Homo sapiens: one gene and its partner. The protein of the gene in region 1 interacts with the protein of each later gene in a pairwise test. Each region holds a gene or a part of one and is shown in the gene's direction. Other genes may lie near its edges.

The links.
Region 2: the proteins of IL36RN (region 1) and ZKSCAN4 interact in binary tests that used the Homo sapiens proteins (3 or more experiments, as listed by UniProt).

The regions. Positions count from the first base shown.
Region 1 is NC_000002.12:113,061,765-113,066,202, forward strand, and holds the end of IL36RN (interleukin-36 receptor antagonist protein), read left to right. Parts: intron 1-359; coding exon 360-487; intron 488-688; coding exon 689-913; 3' UTR 914-2,980; downstream 2,981-4,438. UniProt on the Homo sapiens protein: Inhibits the activity of interleukin-36 (IL36A,IL36B and IL36G) by binding to receptor IL1RL2 and preventing its association with the coreceptor IL1RAP for signaling.
Region 2 is NC_000006.12:28,248,461-28,257,484, reverse strand, and holds the start of ZKSCAN4 (zinc finger protein with KRAB and SCAN domains 4), read left to right. Parts: upstream 1-5,215; 5' UTR 5,216-5,504; coding exon 5,505-5,927; exon of another isoform or gene 5,928-5,940; intron 5,941-6,096; exon of another isoform or gene 6,097-6,620; intron 6,621-7,650; coding exon 7,651-7,798; intron 7,799-9,024. UniProt on the Homo sapiens protein: May be involved in the transcriptional activation of MDM2 and EP300 genes.

The DNA.
Region 1 (4,438 bases):
GTGTAGAAAGTTGTCCAAACAATTCCAAAGGGGGGCTTATCAAGACAGGGTTCAGAAAAAGGCCTGAGACCCAAGGGACATTAAAGGAGGGGGTTGAATCTATTTTGGGGTGTAGAGGCTTGAAGATTTGACCCTGAACTAGAGGGTGGAGTGGAGGTGGTACAATGTGCTTCCATGCCTTGATGTCCACTCTGAGCCAGTGGACAGGAGAAGCCATGTCATGACAGCTGCTGAGAAGCCTCCCTTCTGCCCAGCCTGGGGGCAGGCCGTCTTACAGCAGTCCTGTGCCCTAGAGCCCAGGACAGGGGAAGAAGGAGGGAAAGGCATCCAGGGCCCTGCATCTGGCCTCTTTCCCACAGGTGAAGAGATCAGCGTGGTCCCCAATCGGTGGCTGGATGCCAGCCTGTCCCCCGTCATCCTGGGTGTCCAGGGTGGAAGCCAGTGCCTGTCATGTGGGGTGGGGCAGGAGCCGACTCTAACACTAGAGGTGAGACTTGGGGCATCCTCACTGGGGACTCAGCCACAGATGCTGAGCCTACTGAAGCCGGGCAGCCCACAGCCCTGGTGCTGTGGGACACCCTAGCAGGATTCTGTTGATGGCAGCTTTGCCTCCTCCCTAAGGATCCTGCCCAGCCCTCCCTCTGCCCCTGCTTCTGCCCTCACCTGACCTCCCCTCCTCTGCCGGCAGCCAGTGAACATCATGGAGCTCTATCTTGGTGCCAAGGAATCCAAGAGCTTCACCTTCTACCGGCGGGACATGGGGCTCACCTCCAGCTTCGAGTCGGCTGCCTACCCGGGCTGGTTCCTGTGCACGGTGCCTGAAGCCGATCAGCCTGTCAGACTCACCCAGCTTCCCGAGAATGGTGGCTGGAATGCCCCCATCACAGACTTCTACTTCCAGCAGTGTGACTAGGGCAACGTGCCCCCCAGAACTCCCTGGGCAGAGCCAGCTCGGGTGAGGGGTGAGTGGAGGAGACCCATGGCGGACAATCACTCTCTCTGCTCTCAGGACCCCCACGTCTGACTTAGTGGGCACCTGACCACTTTGTCTTCTGGTTCCCAGTTTGGATAAATTCTGAGATTTGGAGCTCAGTCCACGGTCCTCCCCCACTGGATGGTGCTACTGCTGTGGAATCTTGTAAAAACCATGTGGGGTAAACTGGGAATAACATGAAAAGATTTCTGTGGAGGTGGGGTGGGGGAGTGGTGGGAATCATTCCTGCTTAATGGTAACTGACCAGTGTTACCCTGAGCCCCGCAGGCCAACCCATCCCCAGTTGAGCCTTATAGGGTCAGTAGCTCTCCACATGAAGACCTGTCACTCACCACTATGCAGGAGAGGGAGGTGGTCATAGAGTCAGGGATCTATGGCCCTTGGCCCAGCCCCACCTCCTTCCCTTTAATCCTGCCACTGTCATATGCTACCTTTCCTATCTCTTCCCTCATCATCTTGTTGTGGGCATGAGGAGGTGCTGATGTCAGAAGAAATGGCTCGAGCTCAGAAGATAAAAGATAAGTAGGGTATGCTGATCCTCTTTTAAAAACCCAAGATACAATCAAAATCCCAGATGCTGGTCTCTATTCCCATGAAAAAGTGCTCATGACATATTGAGAAGACCTACTTACAAAGTGGCATATATTGCAATTTATTTTAATTAAAAGATACCTATTTATATATTTCTTTATAGAAAAAAGTCTGGAAGAGTTTACTTCAATTGTAGCAATGTCAGGGTGGTGGCAGTATAGGTGATTTTTCTTTTAATTCTGTTAATTTACCTGTATTTCCTAATTTTTCTACAATGAAGATGAATTCCTTGTATAAAAATAAGAAAAGAAATTAATCTTGAGGTAAGCAGAGTAGACATCATCTCTGATTGTCCTCAGCCTCCACTTCCCCAGAGTAAATTCAAATTGAATCGAGCTCTGCTGCTCTGGTTGGTTGTAGTAGTGATCAGGAAACAGATCTCAGCAAAGCCACTGAGGAGGAGGCTGTGCTGAGTTTGTGTGGCTGGAATCTCTGGGTAAGGAACTTAAAGAACAAAAATCATCTGGTAATTCTTTCCTAGAAGGATCACAGCCCCTGGGATTCCAAGGCATTGGATCCAGTCTCTAAGAAGGCTGCTGTACTGGTTGAATTGTGTCCCCCTCAAATTCACATCCTTCTTGGAATCTCAGTCTGTGAGTTTATTTGGAGATAAGGTCTCTGCAGATGTAGTTAGTTAAGACAAGGTCATGCTGGATGAAGGTAGACCTAAATTCAATATGACTGGTTTCCTTGTATGAAAAGGAGAGGACACAGAGACAGAGGAGATGCGGGGAAGACTATGTAAAGATGAAGGCAGAGATCGGAGTTTTGCAGCCACAAGCTAAGAAACACCAAGGATTGTGGCAACCATCAGAAGCTTGGAAGAGGCAAAGAAGAATTCTTCCCTAGAGGCTTTAGAGGGATAACGGCTCTGCTGAAACCTTAATCTCAGACTTCCAGCCTCCTGAACGAAGAAAGAATAAATTTCGGCTGTTTTAAGCCACCAAGGATAATTGGTTACAGCAGCTCTAGGAAACTAATACAGCTGCTAAAATGATCCCTGTCTCCTCGTGTTTACATTCTGTGTGTGTCCCCTCCCACAATGTACCAAAGTTGTCTTTGTGACCAATAGAATATGGCAGAAGTGATGGCATGCCACTTCCAAGATTAGGTTATAAAAGACACTGCAGCTTCTACTTGAGCCCTCTCTCTCTGCCACCCACCGCCCCCAATCTATCTTGGCTCACTCGCTCTGGGGGAAGCTAGCTGCCATGCTATGAGCAGGCCTATAAAGAGACTTACGTGGTAAAAAATGAAGTCTCCTGCCCACAGCCACATTAGTGAACCTAGAAGCAGAGACTCTGTGAGATAATCGATGTTTGTTGTTTTAAGTTGCTCAGTTTTGGTCTAACTTGTTATGCAGCAATAGATAAATAATATGCAGAGAAAGAGAAACAAATGCATTTGTTTTATTATTGCAATTTTCTCCAATATTTTTTATTTTCTTTCTCACAATGAACAACTATCCTTCATTTACCCAAATATTCTATTTAAAAGCTAATAATACAGCATTTGTTGAGTCATCTGGTTCTGCAAGATTGAGATCCTCTTGTCCTATGTGCCAGGAATGAACTCCAGTGTCCCCACCCAAACCCTGGGGAATGGGAGCAGAAGCCAGAGGAGGAGCCCATATCTGAGCCCCAGGTATTCCACCTGCACTTCACCTGTTGGACCAGCTTGGTGGTTGAGAGTCCACTGAGGCACTGGCAAGGAGGTGGCCAGGACAGACAAGGCTGCCTCTATGGACCTCACAGCTCCAGCCCAGATTCAGCTGAAGTCCTCAGGCAACAGGCAGCACAGCTCCTACCCCAGGCCTCTCAGGGCTGCCAAGAACATGAGCTCCGGATGCTAGGCTGTGTTTCAGACCCTGTTCACACTCTCTTTGTCCATGGGCCCAGACACAGTCTTGTGCTGCTCCCTCTGCTTTTGGGTCCTCCATCCATCCTCTCTGCCTAGATAAATCTCTCATCTTTCAATACCCTGCTAAGATGTCACCTCCTCCAAGAAGCTTTTACTGAGTTGAGACACCCCCAGCTATCTGATCTGGCAATGTTTGTATGCACCTCCCTGCACTGTAGTACCTTAACTTGGAGTCTGTGGCCCCTGGGATGACCTTAAGGTTAGGGACATATAAGTTTGTCTCTTAGCACCTTGCATAATGCTTGGCACATAATGGAAACCCAATGAGTATATAATGTAGAAACTATTTCTCCACCCTGGAATATTCTCTCCTTCTCCTCCACCCATCTAAACAGGCCCACCTCTAAGGGAGCAGCTTAAATTCCACCTCATTCTTGAAGGTTTCTCCAGCCTGAATTTGTTGCTTCCTCATTTGTAGGATGACAGAACTCAGAAGAGCTTTAGCCATGATGAGCCGACACAAGTCAGTAGTAAAAGAAGGAATATAAAATGCCTCCTTCAGGAATGTACAGGCTGGACATCATGACTCTACAAGTGAAAAAGAGTTAGTGGCTTTAGATTTCTGCAATTTTGGTATAAATCACTGGCCTGGACCTGTATTTACAGAGATGCAATACTCACATCATGTGGGGTTTGTACAAATTGCAGACATCGAGGAACAGAGAATGTTCCAAGGGCAGGCTGTAGGGAAGAGGCTACGATGTGGGAGGTATTATCCTGAAAAAAGCAATGCACAGGGAGCCCTCTTCAAGCACTTAAAGGCTTGCCAAGTAGAAGAATGTGCTTGTTCTGTGTAATTCCAGAACACACAAGCAGAACCAATGGGTGCAAATTATGTGGAGGCTGTTTTTCCTATATGACCCCCATATTTTAACCACAAGGACCACAAACATTGATAGGGTTTCTTCAAGAGGTTGTGTGGTCCCTGACCCT
Region 2 (9,024 bases), on another chromosome or scaffold:
TGGTGCTTTGCTGCACCTATCAACCCATCATCTAGGTTTTAAGCCCCACATGCATTAGCTATTTGTCCTGCTGCTCTCCCTCCCATCCTCCACCCCCCACAGGCCCTTGTGTGTGTTGTTCCACTCGCTGTGTCCATGTGTTCTCATTGTTAAACTCCCACTTATGAGAACATGCAGTGTTTGGTTTTCTCTTCCTGTGTTAGTTTGCTGAGGATAATGGCTTCTAGCTTCATCCATGTGCCTGCAAAGAACATGATCTCATTCCTTTCTTATGGCTGTATAGTATTCCATGGTGTATATTACATACTTATAACAAAAGAAAAAGCACATTTTCATTGATGCAATATAATTATATTATTATTCAAACTATAATAATTGAGTATAATTTTGCAATGCATATTTTCTAATGGGAAGAATGAAATTGTTTTTTGGATGAATAACATTTTGCTTAATTAGGGTTCTGCCCTTGTAGGTCAAAAGTAGCCATAGACAATATGTAAGTGAATGAATATGGCTGTGTTCCAACAAAACTTTATTTATAGACACTGAAGTGAATTTCATATGATTTTCACGTTACTAAATTTTATTATTCTTTTGATTTTTCCCCAAGCCATTAAAAAATATAAAGATAATTCCTCACTCAGACCATTAAAAAACAGGCCATGGGGCAATTTTGGTCTGTAGGCAGCAGTTTGCTAACCCCTGACTTAGCAGAAAAAGCAGTGGTGCAAAAAGTATGCTTATAGGGATAAAAATAAATGCCTACCATACCTTTTTAATGGGAGGATGGGCTTTTATTTTCTAAATTTTATTTATAGATGAGCAAATGTTCATTTGCATACAGCATAGAAATATATTTGAAGAACTTTAAGAAAATAGGGACAGTTTTTGAAATAACAATACATTTTAATTATCAAGGAAAGTACCAGATGTTGAATGCTCAGCTAAAATGGAATTGTTCTCACAGGTAACCTTTTACTACCTTTCTTAAAATTTCTCAAAATTGTTTTTCATAAATCTTTCCTCTAGTTTTTATTTTATTTTATTATTTTTTGAGACAGGGTCTTACTCTGTTGCCCATGCTAGAGTGGAGTGGTACTATCATGGCTCACTGTGTACCCTTGACCTCCTGGGCTTAAGTGGTCCTTCCATTTGAGCCTCCTGAGTAGCTGGGACCACAGCTGTGTGCCACCATGCTCAACTGATTTTTGATTTTTTGTAGAACTAGACCCTGTCTCTAGACAGATGTTGCCCAGGCTGGTCTTGAACTCCTGGGCTCAAGTGACCCTCTGACCTCAGCCTCAGAAAGTGCTAGCATTACAGGCATAAGCCACCATGCCCAGCTCCCAATTTTTATTTTAAAAACTTTCAAACCTACAGAAAAGTTCAAACACCCATATATCATTTACCTAGATTCACTAGTTGTTACGATTTGGTTTCTTACTCAATTGAAAGAAAATTGCAGACATTATGATGCTTCACCTCTAACTATTTCAGTCATGAATGCATAAAAAGGACATTTTCCTTCATAATCACAATATCATCCTATGCCCTGTCTGAAGTCTCCTTAATCCTATTCTGAGAGTAGTCCCATTAGTTTTCTAATGAAGGATTCTAACTCAAGGTCATCAGGCACCCCTTTCCCTTATCCAACTACCCCCAGCCTTTACCCCCCAGGGCCCAAAAAAGTAAGCCCAACCAGGACCACCAGGAGTAGGGCCCCATATAAGCCCCTAAAGTCAAACCTATGTCCATTGCAGGAGGTAGCTGATGGAAATGGAGGAACACTTAGAGTACATGGGGCATTGTCTATCTCTAATTTGGCTTTATACAAGGAAAAATTTGGCCAGTTTTCAGAGAATCAAAAAAAAAGGCTTATACATTTTACCATATTCTTTAACTTGTCATGACTTGCAAGTATTGTCATTTGCTTGCTGTGCCATGAAAAGAAAAAAGGTAAGGAAAAATTGTGTGGTTAAGCCAGTCATTTATGACAAGGTTAAAGAAATAACTCAGGGAAAATGAGAAAATCCCACTCTATTTCAGGGTCATTTTGGTGAAACACTCAGGACATATACTAATGCAGACTCAGACTCCCAAAAAGGACAAGCTCTCCTAGGTATGCATTTTATTACTCAATCTGCCCCTTATCCTAGGAGAAAGCTATAAAAAGCAGCAATAGGACCTCAAACCCCTATGAGCCATTTAAATATGGCCTTTAAAGTTTACAACAATAGGGACAGGGCAAAAGAGATTTAACAATAGCCAAAAAGTGCAATTATTAGCAAATGCTTTAAGTCCCCTGACCCCTGAGGGTTACCCATCCTGAAATAGTGTCACAAGATGGGTGTCTGGAATGCCCAGAGAAGAGCCCCTGACTTGCCAGCCCAAATGTATAGGTTATTTACTAGCCAAACAAGATGGAGTCTGTGCAATTATTAATAAAACCTGCTGCACATGTAGTAACAACTCTGAACAGGTTGAATTTAACATTCACAAGATCTATAAGCAAGATACCGGGTTACATATCTATAATCAGGGCACTGAACCCAACTATATCTGGTCAATTATCAGAAGTGCCATACAAAGTCTCACCTAGTTTTTATCTCTCCTAGGACCTTTAATAGCCATCTTGTTATTACTAATCTTTGGCCCTTGCTTGTTTAACGTCTTTATAAAATCTGTGTCTTCTAAATTACAACAGTTCCAGATAAAGAAAATGCCGTCGCAGGGCTTCCAACCCATCCCATCTACTGACCCAGAAAATAAAAGCATCCCGCCTTTAGATATGGTATCCAGAGATTTTTACTCTTCCAGTGCTAGGCAGGGCCTATGCCCATAAACTAAGCAGGAAGCAGTTACAGAAGATGGACCACTGCCCTTCTGCAGCCTGCTTAAAATTAAGAAGGCATATCTAATCCCTGAGGGAGGAATGAGGTAGGAGGCAGAATTCAACTCCAGAAGTGGGGCTCCAACACCTGACCAAATTGAGGACTAGCTAAAAGAGGGAAGAGGCAGTATCACCTCTCCACCAGACATACCCACCAGTGTGCAATGTCAGTTACCATTGCCATGGCAACACAGGGAAGTTGCCACCCCTTTCCATGGCCATGACCAAGTGACTCAGAAGGTAATACCCCTTTTCTAGAAATTTCTGCATAATCTGGTGCTTAATTTGCATATAATTAAATGTAGGTATAAATGTGACTGCAGAACTGCTTTTGAGCTGCTAGTCTGAGCACACTGCCTAGGGGGTAGCCCTGCTCTGTAAGGAGCAGTACCTCTGCTGCTGCTGTACACTGACACTTCAATAAAAGTTGCTGCCTAATACCACTGGCTTGCCCTTGAACTCTTCCCTGGGCGAAGCAAAGCATCCTTTTGAGCTAAGCCCTAATTTTGGGGCTCACTTGTCCTGCATCATTCTGTTCTATAGAATGTCCCACATGTTGGATTTGGCTGATTGATTTTTTAAAGTGTCATTTAATTCCTTAACTCTCAAACTCACCTGCATGTTGGAATCACCTAGGAAAGTTGGCCAGGCGTGGTGGCTCACACCTGTAATCCCAGCACTTTGGGAGGCTGAGGTGGGCAGATCACTTGAGGCCAGGAGTTTGAGACCAGCATGGTGACGCATGTCTGTAATCCCAGCTACTCGGGTGGCTGAGGCACTAGAATCACTTGAACCCAGGAAGTGGAGGTTTCAGTGAGCCAAGATTGCGCCACTGCACTCCAGCCCTGGGTGACACAGCAAGACTCTGTCGCAAAACAAACAAAAACAACCAAAAAATGTTATTAATGCCTGAGTCCCATCCTGTGACATTCTGATTTAATTGATCTTGGTTGCAGCCTAGGTATCAGGATGTTTTAAAAGCTCCCCAGTGATTCTGTGTGACACAGAGTGTGAAAACTGCTAACTTAACTTATTTCTGTAAATATTTGGATCTAGAAAAGTACTTAGATTCAAGTTCACTTATAAGGATACTTCATGGGCAGTGCCCCCTACCTTCTGTGGTAGCTCATCAAGAGAAAGATATTTTGTAGTATTTTTCATTTGCAACAGTCTTTGGGACTTCTCATTTTCTTAAGTTATGTTATTTCTTAATCCTTGGAATGTAGAGGCATAGGCAAAGAAAGAAAAACTCAAGAAAGTACTGACATGATATTTTTTCCCCTCATAAACTACTGAACTTGCATTTTGTAGCTTCTCCATTCCACTGGGCAGAAAGGGGCTTACTGAAGTGTCCAGTCAAATAACTTACAGTCAATTATGGCTTAAAATCGAGTCCCATCTAGTTCAAAGAATTCTCAGGGCTTTCTTCTATTATAGGATAGGCCTAGTTTATCACATGCCAGGCACTGTTCTAAGCACTTTACACAAGAGTGCTCACAACATTATCTAATCCCTAGTAATGCCTACAACATCCCTATCTACTATTACTTTCCCTATTTACAGATTGGAAAAGTCGGGCACAGGGAGGGTAAGCCAGGATTACACAGGTAACCTGGCTACCTGCGTATCTAGCCACTGTGCTTGACTGTGATTGGGGGCTGGGAAGAAACAGGAAGGAAGAAAGCAGAAGAGAATGGGGTCCCTGAAGCCAGAGACTAGAGAGTTTCTGGAGGTGGAGAGCAGCATAAGCCTGATTGCCAGAGAAGCAGCCATGGAATGTGCAAAGTGGTGAGTGGGGGAGTGGGACAGTGTGTTGAGGATTAGTGGGAGGTGAGGGCTACAGTCAGGGTCGGGAGGAGTAGTCTGGCCTTAAGGAGGAGGAAAAAAAGTGACAGATTAAGGGGGTGAGTGGGGAAGGACCAAGGGCAGCCACTGCTCGCTCCAGGCAAGTGCCTGGTGATGTGTTCTGCTGCTTTGATGTTTCTGAGAGAGACTAAAGGTCCCCCTGCCAGGGTTCTTGGGGCTCTGGGGAACCCCTGCTTTCCAGCTCAATTTTAGTGTCAATTTTATGCCAGCTGCTTAAGCAAGCTTTACATAGGAAAGAAATATGAGCCGCAGCGGCATCCTTCCAGGATTTAAAGGCTCAGTCCTATTTCTTATGATCCAAGGTCTGTCATCCTTTCCTTCTCTATCCCTTAACTGCCTTCCCTTGCGTGGAGGTAAGGACAGGGTAGCTAATGGGTTAATTCGGAGACAACCACCGAGAGAAGCTTCCTAGAGCGCCCAGGAAGTGGCCTTAGTTCCCATCGAGACTTCCTGTGCCCCAGCCTCAACTTCCCTCCTATGTCTGGAGAGTGATCACTTTCACTCCCAAAGACATCCTTTGGTGATACTTACTGTGGGATTCAGAGTGGGGTGCAGAGGACGACCCTGCAAAGGCACGGACTATAAGAGAGATCTGTGCAGCTGCGCCTCAGGGGGTGTCCTGGGCCCCTGGGCATGACAGGAGGGGGACCACTTGCAGTTCTACTGGAAAATTTACCACCCTTCCAGAATCCTCTGAAGATATACAGGTCGCAACTAGAGTGAGACCCGAGTACTGCCTTGGGTCAGAATGGCTAGAGAACCGAGAAAAAACGCAGCCCTGGACGCCCAGTCTGCAGAAGACCAGACGGGGCTCCTGACCGTGAAGGTGGAGAAGGAGGAAGCCTCCGCCTTGACGGCGGAGGTGAGAGCACCCTGCAGCCCTGCTCGGGGCCCCGAACGCTCCCGCCAGCGCTTCCGAGGCTTCCGCTACCCGGAGGCTGCGGGCCCCCGCGAGGCGTTGAGCCGGCTCCGAGAACTCTGCGGACAATGGCTGCAGCCTGAGATGCACAGCAAGGAGCAGATCCTGGAGCTGCTGGTGCTGGAGCAGTTCCTGACCATCCTGCCGGGGAATCTGCAGAGCTGGGTGCGGGAGCAGCATCCAGAGAGCGGGGAGGAGGTGGTGGTGCTATTGGAGTATTTGGAGAGGCAGCTGGATGAGCCGGCGCCGCAGGTAGAAAGAACAGGTTTAGTATCTGAGCGCTGTGGTCTGTTTCCTCCTGAAATCCCAGATCGGAGCGAGGGGCATTCCTTTAAGGTCCAGGAGTTCTTCATCTCTTTTTGTACTGTGAACCTCCTTGGCAGTAAGGTGAAGTCCCTGGACTCCTTCTCAGAATTATATTTTTAAATATATAAAGAAACTATAAAGGATTACAAAAGAACACAACTATATTGACATACAGTTAGCAAAGAATTAAATTTGTATTAAAGTCATATATGTGGATTTTTATTACTGCACTAAATAATAAGACCTAGGGACAGGGCTTATAATTGGCAATTTCAAAATGGCGATAAGCATCTATTTGCCTGGTTGTAATGTGGTGTGAAAACGTGCAGGTTTTGTTGGTGACAAAGTCCTGGGTACTGCTTATGCTACCTTGATTTGTTGCTTCCATTCATAATTGAAGGAAATGTTAACTCTCTCTTAAAGACCAGTAAAAATAAGATTAGTTTTTGTCCTTTCTAAGTTCATGGACCACTTGGGAGAAAGTCCATGGACCACTGGTTATGAACCTCTGGTAGAAAGTGGGCCTATTTTTACCTCCATGTTCTTCCCTGTTTTATGAGGGACTGTTTCCTCTTTGCATCGTCCTGTGTCCCTGTGCACACAACTTCAGAGGACCTGTGTGGCCAAATCTTCTAACTGGTGAGCTGGATACCAAGGTTCTTGACTTAGGTCTATTGCACGCAAGCCCTGTAGCAGTGGGAAGTCATTGCAAATCTCTTAGCTTCATTCTTCATAAAATATGTGGGAAATTCTGAGCTGCACGTGAGACAGTAACTTGAAAACTGTAATTTAACTATCAATGTCTGGAAGGAAACCTGCTTTTAATGAGGACATAACTATGTGCCAGGCCCTGTGTTAGGTGATGTCACATACTGTGATCTTATTTACTGGTCTCCAAAACCTCATAAAGTAGAAATTATTATCCTCATTTTTCAGATTAGAAAATATATTAGTATTGAGAATTTAGCACCAGTGTCCAAAGGGTTTTCGTAAACACACAGATGTATATAATGAGGGAGCCTAGAGTAATGGTAAGAACACGGGATCTGGAGTCATTCTGTCTGAGCTCCCATCCTAGCATTTCCACTTATTAGCTGGGTGACATGGGCAAGCTGCTTAAACACTGTCCACCCTTGGCTGGGTGCAGTGGCTCACGCCTGTAATCCCAGCACTTTGGGAGGCTGAGGTGGGCGGATCACCTGAGGTCGGGAGTTCGAGACCAGCCTGACCAACATGGAGAAACCCGGTCTCTACTAAAAGTACAAAACATTAGCCGGGCGTGGTGGCACATGGCTGTAATCCCAGCTACTAGGGAGGCTGAGGCAGGAGAATTGCTTGAACCCCGGAGGCGGAAGTTGCGGTGAGGTGAGATCATGCCATTGCATTCCAGCCTGAGCAACAAGAGTGAAATTCCGTCTCAAAAAAAAAAAAACAAAAAAACCAACAACAACAAAAAAAATGCTGTCCACTCAGGAGAGAGGATCCGGGCCACATCTCCGTTTTCAGCAACTTATCATAAAAATCCAAAATAATAGCTCACAGGGTTGTTATCTATATTAATTGTGTTAATATCATAAGGCTTGTAGAAACAGTGCCTAGAAAATAGAAATCACTTGCACATGGAAAACATAGAAATGTTGGGTAGATAACTAAAAATCGTGACTTCTAGGTTCCCGTTGGTGACCAGGGGCAAGAACTGCTCTGTTGCAAGATGGCACTATTGACACAAACTCAAGGGTCTCAAAGTAGCCAGTGCCAGCCAATGAAGGCTCTGTTCAAGCATGAATCTCTGGGATCCCAGCCCTTACACGATAGAGGTGAGTATTCTCTTCTGGGTTGTATGAATTCTATAGACTTCATCCAATTTCATTTAAGGATCACCTAAAAGATCCATTTACAGTTACTTTATATACTCATCACAGAGAGCTGTATTTTAAGACTGAGACTAAGAGAAATTTCAAACAATGGTGAAAAACTTTCCTAACCAAACTAGGACATAGTAAATCTGATTTTATTAAAATTGATGTCTAGAAAGAATCGGTTTTTTAAACAACATGGTGATCTCCATTCATTAGATATATTTAGGGAGCCTTCATCTATGGTAGCCAGTGTTGTAGGCACTGGGGAGAGAGCCACCAATAAGACAGAATTCTTGCTTTGATGGAGCTTACATTCTAGCAGGGAGGATAGAAAATAAATTAATAATATAATTTTAGATATTGTTAAGTGCTATGAAGAAAATAAGGCAGAATTTGTAAAGCCAGCCAGAACATTCCAGAGATAGTAGGACTGCTGCAAATAGAAGAGTGTAAATCTAAACCCTGTAAAGCCTGTGACTAGAAGAGTGAAAATCACTTAATAGGAAGCAGCTGTGTGTTCCATGCTGTTCCTCATCTGCTGTGAACATCTGGGCCGATTCCTAAGACATACAACACTTGGACATGCCATCCAACATGCAATCTTTATTTCTCAGCAGAGTTTCTGGCCTAAACCAACTTATTTTCTGCCCCTTGCAAATTGACTTATTGTAGGGAAACCTAAGGTTTCTTCTGCTTCTGAGTCTGAGCAAGTTCTATTTAAGCAGTCTTCCAGTCTTCCATTGCCTCCTTTCTGGACCCAGCCTTATTTGACTCCTCCTAGTTTTTCTTTTTCTTTTTTCTTTTTTTTTTTTTTTTTTGAGATGGGGGTCTCACTCTGTTATCCAGGCTGGAGTGCAGTGGTGAGACCTTGTCTCACTGCAACCTGTCTCCCAGGCTCAAGCAATCCTCCCACCTCAGCCTCCTGAGTAGCTGGGAGCACAGGCCCATGCCACTACACCTGCTAATTTTTTGTAATTTTGGTTCAGACAGGTTTCTCCAGGTTGCCCAGGATGGTCTCGAATTCCGGAACTCAGGCAACCCACCTGTCTCAGCCTCCCAAAGTGCTGCGATTACAGGGATGAGCCACTGTGCCTGGCCTCCTCCTAGTTTTTCATACCTGAAGTGGAAAGCATCCTAATATCTACTAAAGACATTTTAACCAAAACAAAACAAAAACAAAAAAC